Homo sapiens: one gene and its partners. The protein of the gene in region 5 interacts with the protein of the main gene of each other region in a biochemical or structural test. Each region holds a gene or a part of one and is shown on either strand. Other genes may lie near its edges.

Region 1 (3,500 bases), on a different chromosome or scaffold from region 5:
CTCAAGGAGCTCAAATAAGTAGGGGGGTCAATTAAACTGATTACAATACAAAGTACAGTACATAGGTGAACATGGAGAGCCGTGGCAGCCCAGAAGAGGGGCACCTAACTTCAATGAGTTGAGCGAAAGACGGCATGGAGGTGAATAACGATCAGGGAAGTAACACATCCAAAAGGATGTGTTGCTTAAGCTGGGTTTTAAAATAAATTAGCAACTAGACAGACAGGTTGGCAGTAGAGAGATTGTAGGAAGTTTCTAGATAGTGGGATGAGCAAATGTGAAAGAATATTCCAAACTCAGGGAAACTAGGGCTGTGGGGAACTCAATATGCAGGAAGCTAGAGAGGGCACGAGGGCAGATGGTAAGACCCATGTGGAGGGATCAAGAATTTGATTGTTCCGGAGTCACTGAAGAATATTAACTACAGGAATGATTTGAGTTTTCGGAATTTCATCTGGCAACCGCGGGAAGCCTAGAGGCAGGAAGAAGAGGTAGACACTATGAAAGATGTCCAACAAAAAATGCCAAAGATCTAAACCAAAGATTGTGGCTACAGGGCTAGAGTGTAGAGGAGAACTCCATCCCAAATTTCACCTCCTAAGAAAAGCTTCTTCCAATAGACTCACGACATGTAGACTCAGAATTAAACTCTACCCATTCCCAAGAAGAACTTGGGAGTTATCTCACACCTCAAAACTACAAAGAGTGTGGATGAGAATACTGGCAGTTGGAGACAAGAAGAAGATAAGTTGGGGCAGAGGAGGAGAATGTCTTCTTTGAATAAAAGTATGTGAAAAAGAGTTGATAAAGTCATGATTCTGCTAAAAAGGCACCATAAATTTAAAACAGGTGCCCACAACAATCTAACTCATCAATTTCATGAGTCTCTTGATCCACTACATTGAAGTTTCATCAATTTATTTTCATTAGTTTTAGCCAAAATCATGTATCTTAAATTAATAAAAAAGAGGCCAGGTGCAGTGGCTCACTCACACCTGTAATCCCAGCACTTTGGGAGGCTGAGGCAGGTGGATCACGAGGTCAGGAGATTGAGACCATCCTGGCCAACACGGTGAAACCCTGTTTCTACTAAAATACAAAAAATTAGCCAGGTGTGGTGGCACGCGCCTGTAGTACCAGCTACTCGGGAGGCTAAGGCAGGGGAATCACTTGAACCCAGGAGGTGGAGGATGCAGTGAGCTGAGATTACGCCACTGCACTCCAGCCTGGCGACAGAGCAAGACTCCATCTCAAAAAAAAAAAAAAAAAAAAAAAAGAAAGAAAAAAAAGAAAACAGTTTTCTACATCTTTACCTCTTTTCCTTACTGGCCATACATGGTCTTCAGAATCAAAAGCTAAATAATATTTTTAGTTATGCTTATTGACTGCCATGTTCTTGGTATAATAAAACAAATTTAATCTCTCTTCTCTCATGGGCAAACTAAGATAAAATACTCCTTAATGAATTAAGAAAGTCTATTACACTGGCAAAGTTACCCCAAATCTCCAGTTCTGACAAGAGTATGAGAAAATCATACATACACCCTTGATGAAAGTAAAAATGGCATAAAAAGGTTCACATGCTGCCAACGGAAAACTATTAGCCAAAACCTAAAAAATATATATGTATCTTTTATCCCAATACGAGATTTACACAGGACATGAAAAATATTGATTCTTACAAAGGAGAAAACAAATCAATTAAACTACATTAAAATTAAGACCTCCTATTCATCAAAAAACATTATTACCTACAGAGCTGAAAAAGATATCTGCAACTTACATAACCAATAAAGAACTTGTATTTAGACTACATTTATAAATCAGGCCGGGCATGGTGGCTTGCACCTGTAATCCCAGTACTTTGGGAGGCCAAGGCGGATGGATCACTTGAGGTCAGGGGTTCAAGACAAGCCTGGTCAACATGGTGAAACCCTGTCTCTACTAAAAATACAAAAATTAGCTGGGCGTGGTGGCGCACACCTGCAGTCCCAGCTACTTGGGAGGCTGAGGCAGGAGAATCACTTGAACGAAGGAGGCAGAGGTTAGTGAGCCAAGATTGTGCCACTGTACTCCAGCCTGGGTGACAGAGCCAGACTCCTTCTTGGGGGCGGGGAGAGAGGGGGAACAAATATAAATCAATGGGCAAAAGGCAACTCAGAAGAAAAATAAAAGATGTGAATTAGGCACTGCACAAGAGGATACTGAAGTAGCCAAAACATATAAAAGGGTATTTAATCTCACTAACAATAAGGAAAATGCAAAATAATGCAAATTAAAACCGCAATGAGATACTACCACATCCATCAGAATGGCTACAATTAAAGTTTGACAATATCAAGTAGTGTTAATTAGGAGTAGAACAAGTACACTGAAAACAGATCCAAGCATTTGAGAATACAATTTGGCCTTATCTGGTACAGTTGAAGATACAAACATCCTCTGACCCAGCAACGTCCCTCCTAGGCTTGGATTCCTTAGAGAAGTACATGCACATCTACACAAATCACAACCCACATGTTCATGATGCAGCATTTGAAATCTGGATTATAAACAATCAAAGTGGCTGCCAAAGGCAGAATCAAATTGTAGTACATTCAATAAATGGATGATTATACAGCAACAAAAAATGAATGAACTATAGCTACTAACGACATAGATGAATATTAAAAACAAAATAGTGAATGAAAGCCAGATACAAAATAATGCATAGTTGATGATTCCGTTTGTGAAAAGTTCAAAATAAGCTCAACTAAACTACAGCATTAGGAATGCAAAGACGGGTAGGTAATCTAAAGGAAAGCAAGAAAATAACTTTCATAAAGTCAAGACAGAAGTTACCTTCAGCTGGAAGAATGGGGCTGTGACTGGGAAGGGGCAGTGGGGGGTAGGGGAGGTGCGCCTGGCTGCTGGCCATATTTGATGTCGTGATCTAAGTGGCAGTTACAGGGTGTTCACTTTATAATAATTCCTTAAGCTGAACATTTGTGTCCTATGCATTCACTGTATTACATTCCCACAATTATAAAAGTTTAAAAACAAAAAATTTTAAGGTATTTCCTTCAAGGAACACTACCACAGATAGCCATTTAAAAGAAAGCTGTACAGCATTTAATGACAAGAGAAACGATGATACACAAGCTTAATTAGGCAATTAAATTCATACAGTATGATTCTATCATCTTTTTTAAAAAATGAAAATTTGAATGTGTTTGCATAGAAAAATGCAAGAGAAATTCTTACTAAGCTGTTGGCCACCACCATCTCTAGGTGGCAGTTTTTTTGTTTGTTTTTTGAGACAAGAGTCTCGCTCTGTCACCCAGGATGGAGTGCAGCGGCATGATCTCGGCTCACTGCAACCTCCTCCTCCTGGGTTCAAGCGATTTTCCTGCCTCAGCCTCCCGAGCAGCTGGGATTACAGGTGGCTGCCACCACGCCCAGCTAATTTTTGTAGTTTTAGTAGATATGGGGTTTCACCATGTTGGCCAGGATGGTCTTGA
Region 2 (3,500 bases), on a different chromosome or scaffold from region 5:
TCAGGAAGGGTAAGTAACTCCTGCTGCTGTGCAAGTGTTTCTGCTACTCCTTTTTAGAAGCTGATGAATGGGACTCACCAAAAATTGCACACCCTATTTGTATCAGAATAACTCTCAGCCACTTCTCAGACTCAAATCCTCCATTCAAATATGACAATCTGCTACCTCTAAGGATACTTGGAATCAGTTCCAAGAGGAAATGCAAAAATATTCTGAAGAAATGCAGAAGCGGATTGACTGGCATACAACAAGGTTTCTGTCCACCAAGACTGCTTGAGAAGCACTCACTGCGGAAGACCTAAGGACCAGGACAAGAACAGGGCCCCCCACGAGCCAACACAGAAAGGGCCCCACAGCTTCTCATATGCATCACTTTTTCTGTCTGACAAACATTAATCATCAGGTAAATGAAATTAATATCAAATTAATGGCACCAAGACAACATCGTACATAAGTTAAGTACATGGCCTCTGGAATTAGCCTGATCTTAGTTCTTATTCTGTTATGAGCTGTGTGTCATCTGGAGATGTTTTTTAGTTCTTGCCTTCCCAATTTCCTCAACTGAAAATGGGGACAACAGCACCTCATGTTGCTATTAGAAGAATTAAAGGGCACATGCTGGGCGCGGTGGCTCACACCTGTAATCTCAGCACTTTGGGAGTCTGAGGCAGGCGGATCACCTGAGGTCAAGAGTTCAAAACCAGCCTGGCCAACATGGTGAAAACCGTCTCTACTAAAGATACAAGAAAATTAGTCGGGCTTGGTGGTGGGCGCCTATAATCCCAGCTACTCACTTGGGAGGCTGAGGGAGGAGATCACTTGAACCCAGGGGGCAGAGGTTGCAGTGAGCTGAGATCGCGCCACTGCACTCCAGCCTGGGCAACAACAGCAAAACTCTGTCTCAGAAAAAAAAAAAAAAAAAAAAAAAAAAGAAAGGAAGGGCATAATGCCAATGCCTGGTAGGTAGTATTCAGGAAATACTACCCACTATAATCTTACTATCCATTTGATATGTTTCTAACAGGAAAAAAATTTAGGTTTAAAAACAACATCCAGGTTAATACTTGAGGTTAACTCTTAAGATAGGTATCAACTGGCTGTGTTTTTTTTTTTGTTTGTTTGTTTTAAACAAGAGATAGGGTTCTGTCAGACTCTGCCACCCAGGCTGGACTTCAATTGCACAATCATAGCTTAGTACAGCCTTGAACTCCTGGGCTGCTCCTTCCACCTCAGCTTTCTGAGTTACCGGATTACATGAGTGCATCAAGGCACCCAGCTCAACAATTGCTTCTTAACAGGAAAACACCAACTTCTAACCTCTTCCTAGTTCAATGCTTTCAAGGTACCTAGGCCATAACACCACAGATCAAGTCCGGCAACAGGAAGAGTCTGAATGGTTGTCCTCAAAATGTCTCATACTGTATGCCGCAAATGGATAGCAAGTACATATGAAATGTTATAAGACATCACCTTTCAACAAAACAAATTGGTTCAGAATCATCTGAACCAACTGACCCTTATTCTACTGAACTGGCATTACAGAACAACTTACTTCCCAATATGAAACTGATCACCTATTTTAATTGTGGAACTGATACATTCAGGGCACATTCTAGAGACATTGCCGGTTACCTACAGCATGTTCCTGAAGCTGCTCCGGAAGCTCTTTCATTTCCCCCTCGACTAGCTCTCTACTATCCGACAGGGACTCCTGGAGGTTATCAGCATCATCGTCTTCGACACAATCTGCAACGCTTCCATTATCAATTTCTGCTTCATCCAACACACTGATATCCATGATGTCGATGTCCTGCAAGTTCTCCAGACTGGTCTCAACATCCTCCTGTGACACAACCAGACCGAACCATCATGTGACCGCCACTGGTCCATCCACCACGCTACTCACTCGCAAGGCTGCACATACCTGTCCATCCCCAGAGTTTTCCTCCAGCCCGTTATCTTCCACACCCTCTTCTTCTGGTTTGCGCCCTGAAGACAGAATCATTTACAGCATGAGATCAAATGATACGCACTTTACAGAAGCAACAATGCCCTGAGCACTACACAAGTGGTCACTTTATAAACATCTGAGACACCTCACTACTTAGGAACACTTCCTAATCCAGGAATGAGGCCATTCCGCACAAGACAGCCCTGCCCCACCCCCAAGCAGAAGAGGTTCTGTTCTTGTCTGAGCTGTGGAAGTAGAAGTGCAGAAAACAGGTTCTTAGTAAAGTTGAACAGGATCAGACCTGTCCTCAGCTCTGCCCTTCTTCCTATCCCAAGTGTCCTTGTTTGAGGGAAAAATTATTTGTTGCAAATGTGCTGCCTTTTAGTTAAGGAACATGTTTTCCCACAGAAACTGCGCATGCCCGAGTATGCACATTTTTAATGCTTAAAAAGAAAAAAGAAGGGCCGGATGCGATGGCTTACGCCTGTAATCCCAGCACTTTGGGAGGCCTAGGCGGGCGGATCACCTGAGGTCAGGAGTTCGAGACCAGCCTGGAAAACATGGTGAAACCCCGTCTCTACTAAAAATACAGGACAATCACTTGAACCCAGGAGGCGGAGGTTGCACTGAGCCGAGACTGCGCCACTGCACTCCAGCCTGGGCAACAAGAGCGAAACTCGGTTAAAAAAAAAAAAAAAAGAAAAACAAAAAACCCACATACTATCAAGATACTCCAGAGGGGCTGGGCACGGTGGCTCATGCCTGTTAAGTCCAGCACATTAGGAGGCCGAGACAGGTGGATCACTTGAGGTCAGGAGTTTGACACCAGCCTGGCCAACCTGACGAAACCCTGTCTCAACTAAAAATACAAAAAACTAGCTGGTTGTGGTGGCGGTTGCCAGTAATCTCAGCTACTCAGGAGGCGGAGGCAGGAAAATCGCTTGAACTCTGGAGGTTTAGGTTGCAGTGAGCTGAGATCGTGCCGCTGCACTCCAGCCTGGATGACAGAGCAAGACTCTGTCTCAAAAACAAAACAAAACAAAACAAAAATTGCAGAGGAAGGTTTTTTTTTAACTTATACATTTCCATCAACAGCGAATTAAAAAGTGCCAATCTCGTGCACTTGTAGTCCCAGCCACTCGGGAGGCTGAGGCAGGAGAATCGCTTGAATCCGGGAGGCAGAGGTTGCAGTTAGCCGAGATCACACCACTGCACTCCAGTCTGGCAACAGAGCGAGACTCCATCTCCAGAAAAAAAAAAAAAAAAAAAAAAAGCCAATCTTTCTTGAATCTCTGTTAAAAATTTGCTATTTTTCTTTATCTTTGCCAATATGCTAGGTAAGAAAAGGAATACTGTTTTAACACGAATTTATCTCCTGACTACTCAAATTGCTTTGAATCATTTGCTTTTTGTTGTTGATCACCTGTACTTTTCTAAAAATTTCTGATTTACACCCCACTATTTAAAAACTTCGGCTCCAGCCAGGCGCGGTGGCTCACGCCTGTAATCCCAGCACTTGGGAGGCCGAGGCAGGCGGATCACCTGAGGT
Region 3 (3,953 bases), on a different chromosome or scaffold from region 5:
GAGGACCTCCGGCAGGATCTCCTGCAATGTGGCCTTCGAGACCTAAGGATGGAGGGAGAAGAAATCGTGACTTCCTCTGCGGGGTGAGCCTGGTGGATCCTGTTCTACCTGCTCCTGACACGGGGCCACCTGGTGAGGTATCAGAGTCATCAGAGGCCAGTTGCTAACAAAACTCAAATTCCCAGGCAGCGGGGTTTTTGACAAGCATCCCACTGACGCTAACTGGCCCCTGGAGGTACCTGCCCCCCACCCCTTATTTTTTTTTTTTAAGACAGAGTCTCACTTTGCCACCCAGGCTGAGTATAGTGGTGTGATCTTGGCTCACTGCAACCTCCGCCTCCCAGGTTGAAGCAATTCTCCTGCCTCAGGTGGGATTAAAGGTGTGCGCCATCACACCCAGCTAATTTTTGTATTTTTAGTAGAGATGGGGTTTCACCATGTTGGCCAGGCTGGTCTTGAACTCCTGACCTCAAGTGATCTGCCCACCTCGGCCTCCCAAAGTTCTGGGATTACAGGCGTGAGCCACCATGCCCGGTCAAAGCTACCCTTTTAATTATTCCTTTTTTTGGTATTTCAGAGTACTAGCTCATTTCATACACGAGGAGCCCTAGGTGGAGAGCTGGGATTCGAATTCAGGTCCTTCTGGCTCTGAGGTCAAGACTGCACAGTAAGCCCTGGCCTGGAGACCTGCTACCCCTGCCTTTCTCTTCGGTGACAAAAGGGCCTAGGGTGCTACCTTCCCAAGTAGGGCAGTGGAGGCCCACAAGGGGCCAGCCTTGACCAGGATAACAATGGCAAACGTTTTATATACTTGCCACGTGCCAGGCACAGTTCCAGAGCTGCACTGCCCAATACGGTAGCCACAGCCACACAGGGCTGCTGAGCGCCTGAAAGGTGGCTAATCTGAACAGGGGTGTGCCTAAGTGTAACATACACACTGGATTTTGGAGACACCTGACAAAAAGAGTGTAAGATATCTCAACACTTTTTTATACCAATGCACACTGAAATAATATTTTAGATATACCAGATAAAGTCAAATGTCACTAAATGTTACTAAATGACACCTGTTTCTTTTTACCTTTTCAACAAAGTCACTGAAACGCTTCAAATTATACATCTTTGTATTTCTATGGAACAGTGCTGTTCCAGATTCTCATCCGAGCCCCCTTGATGTCTCTGTAACAAAGTGTTGCCTGGGCCCGCACAGCTGGGGAGCTCATACCTCGGAGAGGATGTCCACCAGGGCCTTCCGGGGCTGCTCCTGCAAGTGGTTTTGGTACTGGGCCAGGGCCTGCAGCAGCTTCACCGACTTCATCAGTGCCTCCTGGTCCTGGTCCCCACAGAGGGACAGAGGGTATGAGCAGGGCACACGACTGTCCCCCACCCATCCCAAGCCAGCCTACATTCCCCCAGTCCCTCCAAAGCTCTTACCTTCACCAGCCGACCTGACTGAAAGAGGGCGAGCACTCCAAACAGGTTTGCAAAGAGAGCAGGTCTCAGCATTGCCTAGAAAAGGATTCCAGGCACAGGCATGAGGGGCCCTGGAACTCCCCATTCCCCAAGCCTCCCACCCCTGGGGCTGCTGACCTCCCTGGCCCCACTCTCACCTTCTTCACCTGATGCAGGTCATATTTTTCTTGTATCTGCTGCAGGATGCTGCACAAGGGGAGGTCTTCAAAAGACTGTAACAGCTGCCAGGAGTTGTGTGGCAGGAGGAAGAGGGTTCAGGAGAGTGGCCCAACTACGTCTTCACAAACCTTAACCTCCCTTCCCCCTTCAACTTCTCCCAAGAAGCCTCAGGTCCCTAGTCCCACCTTCTATGTACCTTCTATGGCCCCTAGATTACTAGTCTGAAATGCTCAGCCACTGGGTCTTCTCTCCGCACGTGGTCTGAGCTCCCCTCAGGCTGATCCTGCAGGCCTGGGTCTTTATTGCTCTGCCCCTTGTCAAGGCGCCTCAGAGAGTGGTCTACTCCAATCAGCTGAATGCCTCTGCAGGCCTAAGGGAGCCCACCCAGCGCTCACTGCTCCCAGAAAGTGTACCTAAGAGGCCGGGCAACCCAAGCACCAAATAGAAAACCTGGCCAGGCCTTGCTCACACCTTCTCCACTTTCATGAAGAGGCCTCCCTCAGGTTGGCCTCCAGTCTGCTCTGCCACTCCCGACCTCTCTCTCGGGCTGCCCCTCCGCCACAGCTGAGACACCACACCCGCCCTCCTCATACCCCACCATTTTGACCTGGATGGCTGGGACCCTGCCAGGAGCACCACCTCACCTGTGCCAGGGCCAAACTGTAGCAGGGCCGGGCTGTTTCTCGCCCGACCCCGAGTCCCGTGATTAGACGCTTCAGGGCATATTTCATCTCGGACCCCTGCGGAACCAAGCACACCCTCGTGTTCAATGGTGACAACAAGGTGCACGCCCCCGCGCACCCTGGCATCCAGGTTCGCGACCACGTGCCCCCAGTCTCAACTCCCTGGGCCCGCCGCCGCTTCCTTGCCGGGATATGCGCAGCCTCTGCCCCAGACCCCGCCACTCCACCTTCGGCCTGCCACGCAGATACTCCAGCAGCTTCTCCGTGGCCGCAAGTCGCGTCTCCTGCTCAGGCTTCGCAATGTCCCAGAAGAAGTCCAAGAACTCGCGACTGTGCTTCAATAGGCCATAGCGGTCGGCAGGCCGGGCGCCACTCTGCGTCGCTTCTCCAGGCGACATCGGCTGGGCGGGATCCCGGCTCTCCATCTCCGCCACACTCACCGAAACACGAAACACGTGTGCTCCGGCCCCAGCCGCTTCCAGGTCAGGGCACGGCGCATGCGCACCGGTTTGTGTCGGCTCGGAGGCGGAAGAACCCGGAGGGGCGGGGGAACCAAGAGAGACCGGCCCAGAGTTAAAAGAGCGGCATTTCCGCCGTAGCTCTGAGCGGAAGTCCCTCGCCTAGCGGCGTCCCATCTTTCCCAGCCTTCTGCTCACACCCGCTCCGCCCTGGCGGCTGTGGCATCTGCCCCTTTGGAGCCCCAGGGGGGCATTTCTAAGGGCCCATCTCGGAAACAAACCTAGGTGTAGCACTTCGATCCGACTCGTCCCAGAGCGGCCCCTGCGCTCCGAACATTGAGCCATTCAACAATTACTGGGCTCCTGCTGGCGTGCCGTGCTAGGCGGTTGGAACAAAGCCTCTGCTCTCGTGGAGGAACACGGAGCCAAATGCATTTAAAAAGATCATAATTATGAAGAGAATTAGGAATGCAAGGGTCAGGAGGAGGCTTTTAAGTGCTGGAACGTGAATACATCACCCGTTAAAAACACGGCTAATTACTATTCAATAGGGTCTCCAATAATGATTTGAGGGGTTGGTCAGGGAAGGCCTCTGTGAGGAAGTGGCATTTGGGATGAGAGCTGAGTGACAAGAAGGGCCCCCCTCCCCCGTACTCCTGCAAGGATCTAAGGGGACGAAATCCCAAGCCTTGCAACTACAGAGACCCAGGGCTGGAGGGGCTGAGGCTGGCGAGAAGCAAGGCTGCATGGGGCCCCGGGCTGGGATTTCATTCTGAGGGTGATGGGAAGTCACTGGTGAGTTTAATGCAGGGGCAAGCCTGGATCCGATTTACATTTTAACAAGATGATGCTGGCTGCTGTGTGGGGGATGGACTGTAGGTCTGCGCAGGTGGAAGCACGGGAAGACCATTTAGAGATAGTGGTGGACTGGACCCAGGGAAAATGAGAACAGGTCAGATTTGGGCTGATGTGGAGCAGGTGGGGTGGGTGATGGAGTTAGATGTCGGGGGAGAGGAAATGAGGGGGATGCCAGGTTTGAGACTGAAATAACTGGGTACATTGTGGTGCCATTACGGAGAAGAATTTTCTTGGGAGTGGGAGGTAAAGGTGGTGGGATCAAACGGTCTATTAAATCAGAGAAGCCTTTTACAATGGCAGGGGAGGGGAACTGCTACTGGTC
Region 4 (2,338 bases), on a different chromosome or scaffold from region 5:
CAAGCCCCATACAATTTTTCCTGTACCTGCCTATAAAACTTAATTTCCAAATTAAGCACAGTAAGAGATTAACGGTATAGGATAATTTTGACTATTGTATACTATAACTATACATTCACACATTTAACATACAGTATAGGTGTGAATGTAGTCTCAAAGTATCTGAATTGTAGTTGACCACATGTAGCTGAAGCTGCAGATAACAGGACCCACTGTACTCAATTTTCTTCCTAGTGAAAAGTCCTTTTGAGACTTCAGAATGAAAATGCTATACTCACCCTCTCAGAAACTGTTTACTCAGAAACTGTATCCAAGTAAGATATTTGAATTTGTCCTTTACTCGGACACCGACCAGCTCAAAGCTTTCTAAACCAATGTCATACCATTAGCGCTAACCCACGCTTCCCCAGTCACTAACGATGTGAAGACAAAAAACTAGAACAATTTCTGAATCCAATAGCAAGTAACATTTCTCTATAAAACAAGGAGAATGACCCCAGTCCAAAAAAAATCTTTATGTTCCTTTATTGGAGCAAGATTCCTGATCGGTATACAGTGATGTATTTACTAAACAGAGACCTGTGCAGAAATTACATACTATCCATCTAGATAGGTTGTTACACTTTTGCCTATTGATGGAATAGTTCCATTTATCAAGTTTTATACATCAAAAAGCTTTTGAAGTTCACCAGACTGTCCATTAATTCACCTCTGAAAAAGTGGCATTTAATTTCAGCGACTATATTTTACAGCATTAAAAAGCTTATGCATTAGGGTGCTTCTCTGCACAATGGCATTGAGCAGACAGAGCTGAGTCCATTATCCCACCCAGATTCACATGGTCACATTTGAGAGCTTTATACCAGAAAGCAGGGACAGTTACTGCTCACCATCAGACTTCTTACTGAGAGCCTATCTTCTTGGCCACATTTTATATAGCCAATGAAGACATGCCAGCAACTGTCCCGTGTATAACTTGGCATTAGAGCACCAGGTCTGTTGGATGGTGGTGGCAGGCACAATTAATTTATATCCAGGTAAAAGGCCAATTTTAAAAACTGCCACTTGGAGATAAAAATCAAGGGCACAATGTACTCAGAGAGTATTGAGCTATCTGGTATCCCAAATGATGTGAATACTTTCAGAAACCAATGGCAAATTGAACCCACGTTTCCCAGCTATGGAGATATTAATACATTGATTCAAATCCCATTACTCAATCCACATAGCCCTGAGGTCATCCTGCAAAGTGCGTATCAAAAAATACGAAGTTAGGGTGACAAAGTTTGACAGTGATGTTATACAAGTCAAACTTGGAAGGTCATAGTAAGCATACCTATGCTGAGAGAAAAGCATCAAATCCTTTGTGTACACATTTAGTTTTATTGTAACAAAGCAACTTGTACACTTTTAACGTTTAAAACTGAGCATCATCTTTCCTTTCCAGTGAAACAAAAAGAAAATTTAAAAATAAACAGGAACAAAATTACAATAGAGAATGTCAATTCCAAATAAGATCCTACAGGTTCTGCTGATTCTCCCATTGAGTGGCAGGGCTCAAGTCATCATTAGGAGAGAATTTATTTTAAAAGTGTCATCTTAAACTGCAAGGATGTCTGTCAAATATCACAATTAAACATGCCAAAGGAGAAGCCATGTTGTCAAAATGCCCACTTAACCCACCCAAACATCTCAAACCCACCCTTTGCTGACCTTCTATAACCCCATTTTTTTAAGTTTTTTTTTCTTTTTTTAAACAAGAGAAAGTAGACAGATACATGTTGGTAAATGCTAACTGTCCATATTCACATAGAGACACAGTGTACTCTCTGAGCCCAATATACAGAGAAAGGAGGAAAAAAGCTAGAATTCTATGCACTACTACACAGGGGCCTAGCACCCTCCAGCTTCCAGCAGAGCGAAGGGAGCAGGTTTTTCTTTTTTCCCACAGAGCTCGGTGGTGTTGATTCCATACAGTTTTTGTTCAGACAGGAAGGGATAAAAATGAACTTCGAACAGAAAGGGGTAGAGACTCTTTTCCCATTGTATTCTGCTCAAGGTATTTCCCCCCAAATAAATTGAGAACCATGGAGTAGAGAAAAGAGACCTCAAGAACAGGGCGACTGAGCACAAGAGGGAAAAAAAAAAAAAAAAAAAAAAAAGACTGCAACTTGCTCCCAGGGACTGGAGAAAATTTAAAAAAAGGAAGGTTGGAATCCATCAGTGTTCTATTTAGTCATCTTCTCCTTCATCCTCCTGAAAGAAAAAGTGGGCAGTTAATCTTCAGGATTAATGCTGAGACTTGCTTTCATATGGACCACAATGGACCCCACGAGTG
Region 5 (3,500 bases):
AGTTCCAAATGTCCCAGCTGTTTTATGCTTTGTCTCTGTTTCCCAGAGACCCTGAGTGTGGTCTAGAGTTGGGATGAGCATTGGTCTCTAATGGTTCTGAAATAATTGTATATTCCTGCAAAAACATTAAGTCTATTAGAAACCAGCTAATTTCATTTTGTCATTTTTATAGGTAACATATTCTGGTGCAGGTAGTATGTTTTTAAAACAAGTTTGCAATAAACAATTTCCCCTCAAGGTTAATATAATAGGCAACACCTTTTGCTGCAACAGACGGCAAGAGGTAATGAAAGATTAGCTTACATTATGATTCATTATTTCAAAATGTCAGGATAAAGTGGATCTGCTGCATCTCCCAGAGAGTGCATGTTTTGCTTTTCTAATGTTAATGGATTTACTGTTTTTTTCCCCCCAGGCCAAATTCAGATAATCGACGCCAGGGTGGCAGAGAAAGATTGGCCAGTACCAATGACAAGGGAAGTATGGCTATGGAATCTGCCAAGGAGACTCGCTACTGTGCAGTGTGCAATGACTATGCTTCAGGCTACCATTATGGAGTCTGGTCCTGTGAGGGCTGCAAGGCCTTCTTCAAGAGAAGTATTCAAGGTAATAGTGTGTTGAAAACGACTTCTATTTTTGATCCTATGAGCAGATCCTAAGAGCCAAAGCGACTGAGGAAGGAAGACATAGAATCAGCCATTTGTACAAAACATGAATCCCTAGTAGGTCCACTAGTATCTTTGGTAGAAACATGGAGAAGAGACAGGATCTCAGGAGAAGGAGTTGACACATGGCAGGGCAGCTGAGGCTGAGTAATTCCGCTTCCTTCCTTTGGCAAGACTCAATCAGTCTTGAGCAACTCTACAGAAGAATTCCACTAGCTGGATCTCTGAGGAAAAAAGAAATGTTGTCTGTGCCCTGACTGGGGAATGCCAGATGGACATTCATGTTTGGTAGGCAACTTTGCCTATATGATCTGGTATATGCTGTTAATTGTCCATGCATAATTATCTCTCTACTCAGGCCTTGTCCAGGCAAATATTCTGTTTTGTTCTAGTTTAGCTTGTTCTCCCCTTTCTCTCTTCCATCTCTTTCTTGTCTCAATGGATGACAGGATATTTTGCTATGAGCTGACTCAGTGGTTGGTGTCTTGTAATGGGGAGATATCATCTTTATCAAACAGTTATTAAGTATCTACCTGTAGCATTTCATTTTCCCGCCTGCCTCCATTGTTTTCTTGTCTATAGTTTGCCAATTATAGCTAATATACGGAGAGCTATACTTTATTTCTACTCCAGAAATGTCTCTATTATTGCATTATAATAGGATACCCTGGGGAAACACTAATCATTTTTACTACCTAAAATACCTATGCTGAATATCCTTTATCTGATAGGAACAGAGATCTGACAGCAGCTTAGGCTAACCAAATTCATTTTTTATCTTAAGTGTGGGGCATTTTTCTCTCTTCTTATTCTTTACCTTTTCAGCTTAAGTGAAGGTTAGTATAAACACTAAGAATATTTCTGATGGAGTTTTCATGTGATTCCTTCTACAAAAACCCAGATTTAAGTAACTTGTTGAAAACCAGAGTCCGCTAAGTTAATAAACACTGATTGAAGAAGTGATTCTCATGGACTTTCTGTGATAGCTCTTTCCTGCCCTGATATGAGATGAAAGCTGGGGGATGGTATATAGTATTTATTTTTCCTTCCGTTGCCAGTGGGACTTTTTTTTTTTTTTTAAAAGCTGTTCATATCTTAATCGAGTAGCATGTGAGGTCAACATGGTCTATTTTAAAAGCATTTTCTTCGACACATTGCTTTTAACATCTTTTAGAACTCTGCTGTGAGACACATGGACTTTTTTGTTGGTATTTTTATACAATTAATGATATTCTCAATAGTAATCTTTGTGTGTGTATATATATAGAAATAAATTCTAAATGTAAGTTAATATATTTATTATTTTTCTAAACATATATAAATATATATATGCACACAGGCTATTTAATTTTATTAGATGATGCTATTTTAATTCAGAAAAAAATGACATTTATATTTTGATTTAGGTTAGTATAAGCCCTTAGAGGTGTTTTGACAACTCTCTTAATTTGTGGTTTTACTGTTTATTTGATTTTATATAATCTAAAATACCATTGTTTTTACCAAGCATTTAATTTGGCAGTGAAAGAGCGTCTGACAGAGGTATGGTTAGTAGATAGGTCTAACTGCACAACTGGATGGATTGAGCTGAGACTGTTTCCTCATCAGTAAAAATGATTTGAAGCAGTGGTTGGCAAAGTTTTTCTGTAAAGGGCCAGATAATAATATTTTAGGCTTTACAAGGGCCATGCAGTCTCTGTTGCAGCTACCGAACTGGATTATAGCCTGTAAGGTGACCTGTAAACACATGGAAGTGATTATGTGCTAATAAAACTTTATTTATCAGAATAGGTAACAGATCAGCCCTGGCCCGTGGCCGATCCCTGATTTAATGTTTATTTATCTGATCTAAATACCTTTATTTATGGAAGGGAATAGGGGATTTTTAAATCTAAAGTTTTGATTATTCACATTTTACTGAGAACTTACTCTATACCTGATTAGATGTTCCGAGAGAAATAAAAAAAAAGTGTAAGACATAATCCATAATACCACAAAATTTAAAATGTATTTAGGAAATTTATTTGAGGAAGTAAATGTACTTGTTCTCATGATACAATCAGAAAGTAAGTCAGTATTGATAAAGTGTTACCTGTATGAGAAAGATAAGGAAAACAATAGAGAGATGTAAGAAATGAAAATACCAGTTATAAATTAAAATTATTAAGATTGAAAGTGGAAATGATCTTCCTCCGAGAAACAATGGCAATATTCTCACAAATTTTTTACATCATTTTTGTTCAGCATTTAAGATAAAATTATATAAATTCCCATAACATTTAGTATTGTCTCTAAGCATTAAGAACAGAAAAAACAGAAGGAAAATATATTTCTAAAAATCAACGAATACAGTGTGAGATGTTTCATTGGTATGGCATTATCTCAAGTTCAAACATTTTGAAAAATGTCTGCTTACTCTTTGATAGTTAAAAACAAGTATCTCAGCTGGCGTGGTGGCTCAGGCCTGTAACCCCAGCAGTTTGGGAGGCTGAGGCGAGTGGATCACAAGGTCAGGAGATCGAGACCATCCTGGCCAACATGGTGAAACCCCATCTCTACTAAAAATATGAAAATTAGCTGAGCGTGGTGGTGCACACCTGTAGTCCCAGCTACTTGGGAGGCTGAGGCAGGATAATTGCTTGAACCTGGGAGGCAGAGGTTGCAGTGAGCTGAGATCATGCCACTGCCGTCCAGCCTGGTGACAGAGTGAGACTCCATCTCAAAAAACAAACAAAACAACACCACCACCACTAACAAAAACCTCTTATCGCCGTCTTGTATACGCAGACCAGCTAGTAGAATTTTACTGAAACAGTAGCCTATAAAAATGCAATT
Region 6 (3,500 bases), on a different chromosome or scaffold from region 5:
CAGTCTCCGCGTCTTGGTGGTAATGGTCCCCCGGGCCCAGCTGTCTTTTCATTTCTTTGCCTTGTGTCTTTACTTCTACAATCTCTCATCTCCGCACACGGGGAGAAAAACCCATCAACCCTGTGGGGCTGGTCCCTACACCCAATCAATTTTTTTTTTTTTTTTTTTTGAGACGGAGTCTTGCGCTGTCACCCAGGCTGGAGTGCAATGGCAAGATCTTGGTTCACTGCAACCTCCACCTCCCGGATTCAAGCTATTCTCCTGTCTCAGCTTCCCAAGTAGTTGGGATTACAGGCGCCGGCTGCCATGACTGGCTAATTTTTTGTATTGTAGTAGAGACGGGGTTTCACCATGTTGCCCGGGCTGGTCTTGAACTTCTGAGCTCAGGTGATCCACCCACCTCGGCCTCCCAAAGTGCTAGGATTGCAGGCATGAGCCACACACCTGACCCAGTTTTTTTTTTTTTTTACTTTTTTTTTTTTTTTTTGAAACCGAGTCGTGCTCTGTTACCCAGGCTGGAGTGCAGTGGCGTGATCTCAGCTCACTGCAAGCTCCACCTCCCAGGTTCACACCATTCTCCTGCCTCGGCCTCCCGAGCAGCTGGGACTACAGGCACCCACCACCACGCCCAGCTAATTTTTTGTATTTTTAGTAGATGCGGTTTCACCATGTTAGCCAGGATGGTCTCGATCTCCTGACCTCATGATCCACCCGCCTCGGCCTCCCAAAGTGCTGGGATTACAGGCGTGAGTCACTGCGCCCAGCTTTTTTTTTTGCGACTGAGTCTCACTCTGTCGCCTAGTACAGTGGCGCAATCTTGGCTAACTGCAACCTCCACCTCCCGGGTTCAAGTGATTCTCCTGCCTCAGCCTCCTGAGTAGCTGGGACTACAGGCGCACACCACCAGGTCTGGTTAATTTTTGTATTTTTAGTAGAGATGGGTTTTTACCATGTTGGTCAGGCTGGTCTCGAACTCCTGACCTCGTGATCCACCCACCTCTGCCTCCCAAAGTGCTGGGATTACAGGCGTGAGCCACCGCACCCGGCCTAATTTAGCTTTTTAAAAGAGAATCGGGCTGGGCACGGTGGCTCACACCTGTAATTGCAGCAAATTGGGAGCCCAAGGTGGGTGGACTACCTGAGGCCAGGAGTTCGAGAACAGCCTGGCCAACATGGTGAAACCCCATCTCTACTAAAAATACAAAAATTAGTCGGGCGTGGTGGTGGGTGCCTGTAATCCCAGCTACTCGGGAGGTTGAGGCAGGAGAATCACTTGAACCTGGGAGACTGAGGTTGCAGTGAGCTGAGATCACACCACTGCACTCCAGCCTGGGCAACAGAAGGACACTACGTCTCAAAAAAAAAAAAATAAAACAAACTAAAATAAAATAAAACAAAATATAAAATTAAAATAAAATAAATAAAAAAAATTTTAAAAAATAAATTTTAAAAATTAAAAAAAATAATAAAATAAAATAGCCGGTCTCAGTGGCTCACGCCCGTAATCCCAGCACTTTGGGAGGCCGAGGCGGGTGGATCATGAGGTCAGGAGATCGAGACCATCCTGGCTAACATGGTGAAACCCCATCTCTACTAAAAATACAAAAAACATAGCTGGGCGTGGTGGTGGGCGCCTGTAGTCCCAGCCACTCGGGAGGCTGAGGCAGGAGAACGGAGTGAACCCGGGAGGCGGAGCTTGCAGTGAGCCGAGATTGCACCACTGCACTCCAGCCTGGGCAACAGAGCAAGATTCTGTCTCAAAAATAAAATAAAATAAAATAAATAAAAATAAAAATAGGCCAGGCACGGTGGCTCACGCCCATAATCCCAACACTTTGGGAGGCTGAGGCAGGTGGATCACAAGGTCAGGAGATTGAGACCATCCTGGCTAACACTGTGAAACCCCGTCTCTACTAAAAAAAAAAATACAAAAAATTAGCCGGGCATGGTGGCAGGCGCCTGTAGTCCCAGCTACTTGGGAGGCTGAGGCAGGAGAATGGAGTGAACCCGGGAGGCGGAGCTTGCAGTGAGCCAAGATCGTGCCACTGCACTCCAGCCTGGGTGACAGAGCAAGACTCTGTCTCCAAAAAAATAAATAAATAAATAATAAAAAAATAAAAAATAAATTTTAAAAAGTAGTAAAATAAAACAAGATAAAAATATATAAAATAAAATAAAATAAAAATAAAAGAGAATCAACCTAGGACTAAGCCGACCAAGCCGACTGATTTCCCTTACAGACAGAAATCAGTATAGGCAGCACCAAGTCACCAGAAGAGACAGGCGATAGGAGAAAGGCCTGGGAAATGCAGGGCACCCCACAGTTAGCAGAGGGGTCCAAGGGCTCTGTCTGACAGCAATGGAACAAGAAAAAGGCCCATGGAGGACCTAACTGGGAATAAACAAACAGGGAAGGGAGGACAGAGGTGGCACTGCCACCCCCAACAAGCCTGCTGCTGCCCACGCACATGGTCAGGAACCACGGCCCGAAGGGAACCCAGAGCCACACTAACTGCTCAGCGTTTGAAGTGCAGTAGTTCAGATGGGCTCTAAGCATGAAAGACTCACCAGGTTTCAAATCTTAGTGATCCTCCCGCAAAAAGCATTATAGCTCAATATTTTTTTTTTCCTTTTGAGACAGGATCTCTCACTCTGTCGCCCAGGTTGGAGTGCAGTGGCTCAATCATACCTCACTGCAGCCTCAATATCCGAGGCCTAAGCAATCCTCCTGCTTCAGCCTCCTGAGTAGTTGAGACAACAGGTACGCACCACCATGCTTAGCTTAATTTTTTTTTCTTGTAGAGACAAGGTCTCCCTTTGGTCTTTAACTACTAAGCTCAAGCGATCCTCCCACCTCCGCCTCCCAAAGTACTAGGAGTACAGGCGTGAGCCACCGTACCCAGCCCAATCTTTCACATGAATTACATGCTGAAAGATAATATTTTGGATATACTGGACCAAAGAAAACATTAATGAAGTTGATCTCATTTTTTTTTCTTAATGTGGATGCTGAAAAATCTTAACTTATAGTTCGCTTTTTCCACTGAACAGTGCTAGTTTAAAGTTGGTTAGGGCCGGGCGCAGTGGCTCACACTTGTAATCCCAGCACTTTGGGAGGCCAAGGTGGGCGGATTACCTGAGGTCAGGAGTTCAAGACCAGCCTGGTCAACATGGTGAAACCCTGTCTGTACTAAACAAAAAAATAAAAAAATTAGCCAGGCATGGTGGGGCGCGCCTGTAGTCTCAGCTACTCGAGAGGCCGAGGCAGGAGAATTGCTTGAACTCAGGAGGCAGAGGTTACAGTGAGCCGAGATTGAGGCCCTGCACTCCAGTCTGGGTGACAGAGCAAGACTCTGTCTCAAAAAAAAAAAAAAAAATTGGCTAATTAAAAAATCTCACAACCAGTTGTGGTCGCTCACACCTATAATCCCAGCACTTCAGGAGGCTGAGGTGTGCAGACAGATTACTTGAGCCCAGGAGTTCGAGACCAGCCTGGGCAA
Region 7 (2,296 bases), on a different chromosome or scaffold from region 5:
AGGGGCAGCAGGCTGGTGGGGCAGCCGGGGTCAGGGAGGGGGCTGGGCCTGGTGCCAGCGCCCGGATCTGACCCAGCCTCTGCTTATCTCAACCCTGTTGACTCTGGGCTGTTATCACTGCCCAAGGATTTACTTCACACCCGGACAGCTAAGAATAGAGCCACCTGGGGGGCACCATGCCAGGGGGCAAGGAGGGCGTGGGCCAGGCGAGGAGAGGGGAGAGCCACTGGCACACAGAGCTCAGTCACGGAGCCCAGTCACGCTAGCCCTCCAAAGCCCGCCTGGGTTTCGTTTCCTCCTTCCTCTTGTGCTGCCAGGGTTAGCCAGAGGTGGCTCCTCAGGCCACCCCTACTCCCCAATGTCACCTCCTCCTCACATCTCCTGCTTCTCAAACAAACTCGCTCCTTACTGCCTCCTGGCCTCCCTGTCTCCTCCCCCAGCCCCCTCACACACATTCTGACCGCCCTGCTGCCCACGGGTCACAGATGAAAGATCAGAAGTTGGCGCAGTGGGAGACCACGTTTTATTCAGTCCAGTTCAGGATCCCCGCTATCTCAGGGCTCTCTGGGCCAGTCCTCCTGGGAGCCCCCACCACAACACTTCCCAGGCATGAGCCCTCAGGGGCCCACATGAGCTTCCACACACTGAGAAGTGTCCGAGAAATTGGTGGGGCCTCTGAAGGAGGCTGTGAGCAGCCCACCTGAACTCCCAGCTCACCAGCCCAAACAGGGTGCAGGGGCTCTGGCCCTGAAGAACCTGAGTGGAGTGGAATGGCACTGGCTGGCCACTCAGCTCAGCGGGCGACGTGCCCCTACAAGTTGGCAGAAGTGGCTGCCACTGCTGGGTTTGTGTAAGAGAGGCTGCTGCCACCATTACCTGCAGAAACCTGGGTGGAAGGAAAAGAGATCCAGGGTGAGGAGCAAAAGGTACCTCCTAGAGCCCCTGGATGCCACCCCAGGCTGGGGTAATCAGTCCAGAGTCCTGGCCAGCTCTCAAAGGGTTAATTCAGAGAGAGCACCTGCCACCCCACCAGCCAGGTGACTGTAAACAGGGCTGCCCTCCTCCCTCTGCTCTCCTTCACTCCCTCTTCTTGGCTCTAATCAGCCCCCTTGTCCCTCCATTCTCTGCTGTTCCAGCCTAAGGAGGTGTGTGTGTGTGTGTGTGTGTGTTTTGGGGGGCGGGGTGTATCTGTGTCTTTGTAAAGCCGAGAGAGGGAGGTCTCCAGGAGGAGGAAAATAGGAGCAAGAAAACTAAACTCTCTCCTCCCCCACCTGGAGTGGTTTTCCAGCCTCAGGTGGCTGCAGTAATTATTTACTAGGTCCCATAGAGAAAGACCAGGAGAGGAAGGAGGGAGCGTTCCTTGCTTCCTTGAAGCTCCCAAGAACCCCACTGGCACCCACGCTCACCTGGTCTGCTGACACTTCTTCTTCTACCTGGGAAACCTCCCCCTATGCCAGCCTTTCTCGGTCTACCCTCCATTCCTAGGAGATGATTAGGGGCACAGAGGCTCACCCCTGGGACTCCTCGGGAAGGGCTCCCCTGGGCATAGTGCTCCACCCATTTTGCCTCTGGGTGCAAAAAAGCAAAACAAAACAAAACTGCCACGGTGGCACCAGTTCAGCCAGCGCCAGCCAGCATGAATGTGGACGGCCAATGATCTTTTAGGAATTCTGGCAGTGGGGCCACTCCCTCTTGAGGGCCCCTTTCTTCCATAGTCTCCTCCCAGGCCTGTCCCCCAAAACTCCTCTGACCTCTGCCCCTCATCCTTGCCAGGCCCTCCCCTGCTCACTTCACGCCACTTCTCACCTCTTCCAAGCTCTTTGGGTTTTCCAAGTACCCCCTTCAGAATCCTTGCCCAGCCAAACCCTCTGCTTCCCCTGGCCTGTGGGGCCCAATCTCACCTTCTCATAGGGGCTACGATCGGTACTGCTAGGGGGCACATAGCGCCCATGGGTGTGGTAGGTGGGGTACTCGCTCATAGGATGGTAGGTATCCCGGGCTGGAAAGATGTCCAGCTGCCCGTAGTTCTTTCGGCGGCACTGACAGACAGCCTGGGGAGATAGGAGGTTATGGCAGGCCATGGAGTGCCTTCTACCGGGGGGCTCTGATCAGGGCCAGGGACTGCACTCACCAAGGCAATGAGATAGACAATGGCCAGCGCAACCAGAACACAGACCAGCACCAGCAGCGCGATGCCCCAGCCTGGCACCCCAGCCCCAGACTGGGCAGAGAAAGGAAATGGCACATCACTCACTAAAAGGAAAAGCAGTGGTCAGGGCAGTCTCCCAGAGGAGGC

What was found.
Region 1: the proteins of ESR1 (region 5) and ASXL1 form a complex in vitro, tested with the Homo sapiens proteins (one study listed by IntAct).
Region 2: the proteins of ESR1 (region 5) and SAFB form a complex in vitro, tested with the Homo sapiens proteins (2 studies listed by BioGRID).
Region 3: the proteins of ESR1 (region 5) and MYBBP1A form a complex in vitro, tested with the Homo sapiens proteins (one large-scale study listed by BioGRID).
Region 4: the proteins of ESR1 (region 5) and SET form a complex in vitro, tested with the Homo sapiens proteins (one large-scale study listed by BioGRID).
Region 6: the proteins of ESR1 (region 5) and NELFB form a complex in vitro, tested with the Homo sapiens proteins (one study listed by BioGRID).
Region 7: the proteins of ESR1 (region 5) and MUC1 form a complex in vitro, tested with the Homo sapiens proteins (one study listed by BioGRID).

Annotation. Positions count from the first base shown.
Region 1 is NC_000020.11:32,424,331-32,427,830, reverse strand, and holds part of ASXL1 (polycomb group protein ASXL1), read right to left. Parts: intron 1-3,500.
Region 2 is NC_000019.10:5,640,083-5,643,582, reverse strand, and holds part of SAFB (scaffold attachment factor B1), read right to left. Parts: intron 1,990-3,500; coding exon 1,925-1,989; intron 1,844-1,924; coding exon 1,637-1,843; intron 1-1,636. UniProt on the Homo sapiens protein: Binds to scaffold/matrix attachment region (S/MAR) DNA and forms a molecular assembly point to allow the formation of a 'transcriptosomal' complex (consisting of SR proteins and RNA polymerase II) coupling transcription and RNA processing.
Region 3 is NC_000017.11:4,552,585-4,556,537, forward strand, and holds the start of MYBBP1A (myb-binding protein 1A), read right to left. Parts: upstream 2,801-3,953; 5' UTR 2,741-2,800; coding exon 2,543-2,740; intron 2,373-2,542; coding exon 2,277-2,372; intron 1,695-2,276; coding exon 1,611-1,694; intron 1,510-1,610; coding exon 1,435-1,509; intron 1,334-1,434; coding exon 1,226-1,333; intron 43-1,225; coding exon 1-42. UniProt on the Homo sapiens protein: May activate or repress transcription via interactions with sequence specific DNA-binding proteins. Repression may be mediated at least in part by histone deacetylase activity (HDAC activity).
Region 4 is NC_000009.12:128,694,559-128,696,896, reverse strand, and holds the end of SET (protein SET), read right to left. Parts: intron 2,257-2,338; coding exon 2,233-2,256; 3' UTR 501-2,232; downstream 1-500. UniProt on the Homo sapiens protein: Multitasking protein, involved in apoptosis, transcription, nucleosome assembly and histone chaperoning. Isoform 2 anti-apoptotic activity is mediated by inhibition of the GZMA-activated DNase, NME1.
Region 5 is NC_000006.12:151,842,182-151,845,681, forward strand, and holds part of ESR1 (estrogen receptor), read left to right. Parts: intron 1-415; coding exon 416-606; coding exon of another isoform or gene 607-612; intron 613-3,500.
Region 6 is NC_000009.12:137,258,327-137,261,826, reverse strand, and holds part of NELFB (negative elongation factor B), read right to left. Parts: intron 1-3,500. UniProt on the Homo sapiens protein: Essential component of the NELF complex, a complex that negatively regulates the elongation of transcription by RNA polymerase II.
Region 7 is NC_000001.11:155,185,324-155,187,619, forward strand, and holds the end of MUC1 (mucin-1 isoform 10 precursor), read right to left. Parts: intron 2,254-2,296; coding exon 2,132-2,253; intron 2,052-2,131; coding exon 1,902-2,051; intron 887-1,901; coding exon 812-886; 3' UTR 501-811; downstream 1-500. UniProt on the Homo sapiens protein: The alpha subunit has cell adhesive properties. Can act both as an adhesion and an anti-adhesion protein. May provide a protective layer on epithelial cells against bacterial and enzyme attack.